Linked DNA regions of Homo sapiens: region 1 is linked to region 2. Evidence: fine-mapped expression QTL. A gene starts in region 2. The other region holds a variant in brackets. All regions are shown on one strand. Distances are between the middles of the regions.

The links.
Region 1: its variant is fine-mapped to the expression of GPR179 in prefrontal cortex (ROSMAP, PIP 0.93).

Annotation. Positions count from the first base shown.
Region 1 is chr17:38,396,481-38,399,392 of GRCh38, forward strand. The region is part of intron 9 of SOCS7 (suppressor of cytokine signaling 7); the gene reads left to right. Among named protein-coding and RNA genes, the nearest start is that of ARHGAP23, 31 kb to the right of the region's middle. The variant C/T (reference allele first, on the strand shown) is at 1,474.
Region 2 is chr17:38,342,223-38,345,134 of GRCh38, forward strand. GPR179 (G protein-coupled receptor 179) reads right to left here and starts at 1,734. Exons shown (of 11, transcript NM_001004334.4): 1 at 774-1,734. The coding sequence starts at 1,567.

The DNA of each region.
Region 1 (2,912 bases), 54 kb after region 2:
CATGTCCCACAGCTTGGAATATGGGGATGAGGAAAAACAGCCCACTCTTCTATTTAGCGTTCCATTTGGGCCATTACAAAGTAAATTGTTGAAACTAAGGAATTCATTTATCTACGAGGCTCTTCTCCCATCATTACACAGTTCTACCCATTTATTTTCCCATAAAACATCTTGCAATACTGGTTTGTGCAGATGAATTCCAATTAGTCTTTTAAATTGCACTAAAGTGAACATTGTGGGGCCAAGTTCCTGAGTAGGGAACACAATTGCCAGGGAGCCATGACTTTGGTGGTGGTGGTGACAAGCAAGATTGACTGCCAGTGTGCAGTGACTGCTTTCTTCTGGTGTGGATCCTGGAGTAGATGTACAGTCTCATCATGTCTTCAATTATATGCAAATTGTATGCCTTTGGAAATGACTAAATATCTAATGTCTTGTGTCTAGGTGGATTTCTCTGCATGATGGCTTTGCAGTTGAGATTAGGGTGAGAGGTAGAGCACTAGGGAGGTCCACCTACCTGACTACCCTTGAAGAGTAATTAGGCCATTCAGTTAGAGGACCACGTCTGTGGGTGCAGTGCTGTAGAAGAACCCATATAAACAGGGAGCATGTTCAGAGAAAGGCCTTGTGGCATTGGAGAGCTCAAACTTCATCATATGGGAATAAATGGCCTAGAAAGAAATGTGATTAACCCAGAGCACGGAGGTTTTAGGGAGGGATAGCTGAAAGATGCATTTGATGGGTTTTCCTAAGGAAGAGAGTGATTAACCTCCTCTCTGTGGTTCCAGTGGGGAGCAAGTTCAGCATTACGCTTATTCTTTGCCACAGGCAACAATCCTGATGTCACAGCAAAAAGAGATCCTGAGAGTTCAGTTCAAACCTTTGCCAGTGCATGACTGCTCCCAACACTCAAGACAAGTGGCTCCCTGCCGGCCTGTTCCTGATCATGCCACACCTTTCCCAGTTGAGGCAGGGCCTTTATACCTCTAGGTCCCCTTGCCCAGAATGCTCTGCCCCAAGGCCCTCCCATGTCACAGCAAAAAGAGACATGGATAAGGACCAAAATGAATGTAAGTTACAAGGAACTAGATTTCAGTCCAACTTTACAAGAACCTTTTTAACAGAGAGGTCCAAAACTGGGATGGTTTTCCTCAAGAGCTTCCATTCAGCAGATAGCTGTATATTTGTGTTTATTTGGCACCCAGTATGAATTGAGAATAGAGTGCTGAGCAAAGCAAAGGCCCTGTTTTCACTCAGCTTCCCTTCTCCTAAGGAAAGACAGGCAGCAAACATGAACATAAATGAATGGGCTAATTTCAGGTGACTGTACAGTGTTGTGAGGAAAGTAAAACTGGGTAAAGTTTAGTGATTAGTGGTGGGATACTCCTCAAGTTTAGATGGTCAGGGAGAGACTTGTGAGGAGGTGCCATTTCAGCCGATACCCAAATATCAAGGAGCCAGCCATGGGAGTGC[C/T]TTGGAGCAGAGCATTCTGGGCAAGGGGACCTAGAGGTATAAAGGCCCTGCCTCAGCTGGGAAGGACGTGGCATGATCAGGAACAGGCCAGTGGGTAGCCATTTGTCTTGAGTGTTGGGGGCAGTCATATATTGGCGAAGGTTTGAACTGAACTCCCAGGATCCCTTTTTGCTGTGACATCAGTATTGATGCCTGTGACAAAGAGTAAGCGTAATGCTGAACTTGCTCCTGGTGTAGACCCTAGGAGCCCTGGAAAGGGAGGAAGTAACACTTCCCAAGGGAAAGGTCTTTTTTTTTTTTTTTTTTGAGATGGAGTTTCGCTCTTGTTGCCCGGGCTGGAGTGCAATGGCGTGATCTTGGCTCACTGCAACCTCCATCTCCCGGGTTCAAGCAATTCTCCCACCTCAGCCTCCCAGTGGGAGGCTGGGATTACAGGTGTGCACCACCACGCCTGGCTAATTTTGTATTTTTAGTAGACTGGGTTTCACCACGTTTGTCAGTTGGGTCTCAAACTCCTGACCTCACTCAAGTGATCCACCCACCTTGGCCTCCCAAAGTTCTGGGATTACAGGCATGAGCCACTGTGCCCCATTGGGAAAGGTCTTTAGGGTATGAAATTTGGCCTTTATGACTTCTTGTTGTTCAGGCTGATTTTAATTTGGGAGTTCTGAATGGCCTGCTTGGTCTATGTGTGCTGTTACCTGGGGAATTTCATGCCAGGGGGTTTGGAGTCAGACTATAGAGTAATGGCTAGAACAGTGCCTGTCTCAAGTCGGAAGGTGGAAGCAACAGTGGCCTTTGTGTTTCTGTGTCAACCCTGTCCAGTTGACAGAAGCTGCAGAAATACAGAGCTCTCTGGCCAGGTGTGATGGTTCACGTCTGTAATCCCAGCAGTTTGGGAGGCCAAGGCGGGCTCATCACGAGGTCAGGAGTTTGAGACCAGCCTGGCCAACATGGTGAAACCCTGTCTCTACTAAAAATACAAAATTAGCCAGGCATGGTGGCGCATGCCTGTAATCCCAGCTACTTGGGAGGCTGAGACAGGAGAATCTTGAACCCAGGAAGTGGAGATTGCAGTGAGCCAAGATCATGCCTTTGCACTCCAGCCTGGGTGACAGAGCGAGACTCCGTCTCAAAAAAAAAAAAAAAAAAGAAAGAAAGAAATATAGAGCTCTTTCTTGCCAGGTTCAAAAGGGGTTACTCCAGGGGCTTACTTCCCTTTTCAGTCCCTAGAGCAATTGAGCCTCAGGGAAAAAATGGGTAGGAAATGAAGGGGTAAGGGAAAGGGAAAGAGAGAATTTATGCAATGTGGTAGGATGTATTTATTAGTTATTTCAGGACCTTGTTTTGTCATCCAAGTCATAGGCTGCTCAGGTCCCCCTGACAAAGGCCACTGCTGCATCCCTAGTCACATGTGGCCCTCATGGAAGCGTTCAGCT
Region 2 (2,912 bases):
CAAGCCTGGTGCATAGATTGTCACTGTCATCCACACCAAGACCTCTCCTGCCTCTTGCACTCCCTTCTCAGGCCTGGGGGCCAAGACCTCTGCCTGTCTATACTGACACATCTTTTTTTTTTTTTTTTGAGACAGAGTTTTGCTCTTGTTGCCCAGGCTGGAGTGCAATGGCGTGATCTCGGGTCACCGCAACGTCTGCCTCTGGGGTTCAGGTTCAAGTGATTCTCCTGCCTCAGCCTCCTGAGTAGCTGGGTTTACAGGTACTCGCTACCACACCCAGCTAATTTTGTATTTTTAGTAGAGATGGGGTTTCTCCATGTTGGTCAGTCTGGTCTTGAACTCCTGACCTCAGGTGATCCACCCGCCTCAGCCTCCCAAAGTGTTGGGATTACAGGCGTGAGCCACTGCACCCAGCTATACTGACATATCTCTACACACATGTGTATACCTGCATATAGATGTATGCTACATATGTATACCTATTTGTATATGCACAGGCTCACAGACATTCCTGCATGTGCTCAAGCACATAAACCCAGATAAATATGGATTGATTTATACACATGTACACTCACACCTGTATGTGTTAACAGATAGTTGCAGATTCCCAGAGCCGACTGTAAGTACACACAGCTGAGTACAAATACCCACATCTGTGTGCCCCCCAGGCATGCACATGTTCGTGCCAAATGGCCCAGGCACAGCTGAGGGGACCTGTACTTCCTTCCCCTACATCCCCACACATGCATCAAATCCTGCACAAACCCACTTACCTGACTTCTGGGCTGAGGTCTGGCTTGAGTCCATAGAAGGTGGCAGAGAGTGTGATCAGCCATCCAGGTCGGAGCCGTCCCTCCTGGCATTCCAGGAAAGGAGGAGACAGCCTCACCTGCTGCGTGTCCCCCACATATCCATCTGCCTGCGGCCACTTGGGGCTGCCGAGGCTCCCTAGGTCATTGGTCAACACTCGCTTCTTCAGGGCAGGGGTGTCCAGGTCCCCAGGAGGGTTCTCCTCCTGCACCCAGTTCCCAGACAAGTCCTGCAGGATGGTTTCCTCCCCAGTCCGGGTGGCCTGCAGGGCCAGCTGTAGGTGGCTGGCCCCTGGTGGAGGGTTAAAGGTCAGCAAAGCCCTGTACACTCTTGGGTCCCCCTCGGCCACGCTGCGGACCAGTGCCTGGTACCATTCCACATCCTCCTCCACACTGGACTCACGGATGTCGTTGGCTTGCAGCAGCATGTTGAGAAAATTGGCGGCCTGGGCAAGGGTGCCCGCTGCCCCCTGTAGGCTTGGGGGGAGCCCTGGCATGGCTCCTGCCCCACGCGCTTCATAGCGCTCACTGCAATTCACCTGTGATAGCTGCTGGGCATCTCCAGAGTAGAGATAAGCGAGGGCGGCCTCGGCCCCCTCTAGGGGCACCTGCATGGGTACAGATCCTGGCTTGACTTGGGAAGACAGAGGGGGCAGAGAGCGGATGGGCCGTGGACCCCCCAGAGCCCAGGCACAGACAAAACAGCAGCCCAGCAGCCCCCACATAGGAGGGGGCATGACCGCTCCCCTGGTGCCCATCCTTGGGGCAGCTCTCAGGACCCTGGGGTCCAGGCTCAGGAGAGCCCAGGCAGAGGCTGGCTGCAGTCTGGGGGCTGTCGGCCTCCACGCCTCCTATGCTGGCGTTCCTTCTTCCTCTCTCCGTCTCCCTCTCACGCTGGTGCCAGCTCGCCTGCTTTTTTCTTCTCTCTAACGTCACCAGCTGGCTTCTGGATGTAGGTATGAGGGCCCTGCCCCCTACTGTCTCAGTGCGGCCCCCTATCTCAAACCTCTTAATCCCAGCACCCCACTCTTTCCTCCCCTCCTATCCAGTATTCAGGCTCCCTCCATCCCCCATCCACATCTGCTCCCGAGGGAGAGAGATGGGAGGGAAGGGGAGACGAAGGCACCAGTTGTGCTCTTTCTCCCTCCCTCCCTCTGCCTGCCCTTTGCTCCATTAGGAGAGATGGGCAAATCCAGGATGGGGCACCATAGCAACCGCAGATGAGCTTGTGCCCCTCTCTCCACCCCTCTGCTCCACTCAGGCTCCTGGCAGCAATTGCAACAGGCACACTAAGGGGCCAAGCTGCATCTCCTGGCAGTCTGCGCTGGCTGCCTGCACCCCCCTGACCCTGTGCTGCTGAGCTGGGATTTGAGAATGGGGATGTTGAGGGCAGGAAAGACAGCCTAATAGTACCGTAATTGGTCTTTGTACAGACTGAGGCAGCTTATAAGGTGCTTTTCATGTGCCTTATCTGAATGAGTCTTCCCCACAGCCATGTATGGTGAATGTTCTTATCCCCATTTCACAGATGCAGACACTGAGACTCACCCAAGGTCACAAAGCAGCTCACTCAGAGACTTACATCCAGAGCTCTGACTCCCCTACATTGCCCATCCAAACCACCACCATCACCGTTACTCAGCCTCAGGGACTATAACAAAGCCTCCTAGCAGAGGCGTCAAGGGACTTCCCTAGAACCACAGTGTTGTTTATGACAGAGCCGCAGCCTCCACCCAGGTGTCCGTCCCTACAACCCAGGCCTCCTTCTGAACCAAAGTCGACAAGCACAGTGGCAATGGTGGCGGGAGAGAGGTGGGCAAGGAGAAGACAGTGAACACAGTTTTGCCTCCATTTCTTACACCTTCATTTTGTCATCCTAAGTTCTACCTTCTTCTTTTTTTTTTTTTTTTTGAGATAGATTCTTTGTCCACCCAGCTGGAGTTGCACCAGCGTGATCTCGGCTCACTGCAACCTCTGCCTCCTGGGTTTAAGCGATTCTCCTGCTTCAGCTTCCTGAGTAGCTGGGACTACAGGCATGTGCCACCATGCTCGGCAAATTTTATTTTATTTTTTTTTTTAAATTTTTTAGTAGAGACGGGGGTT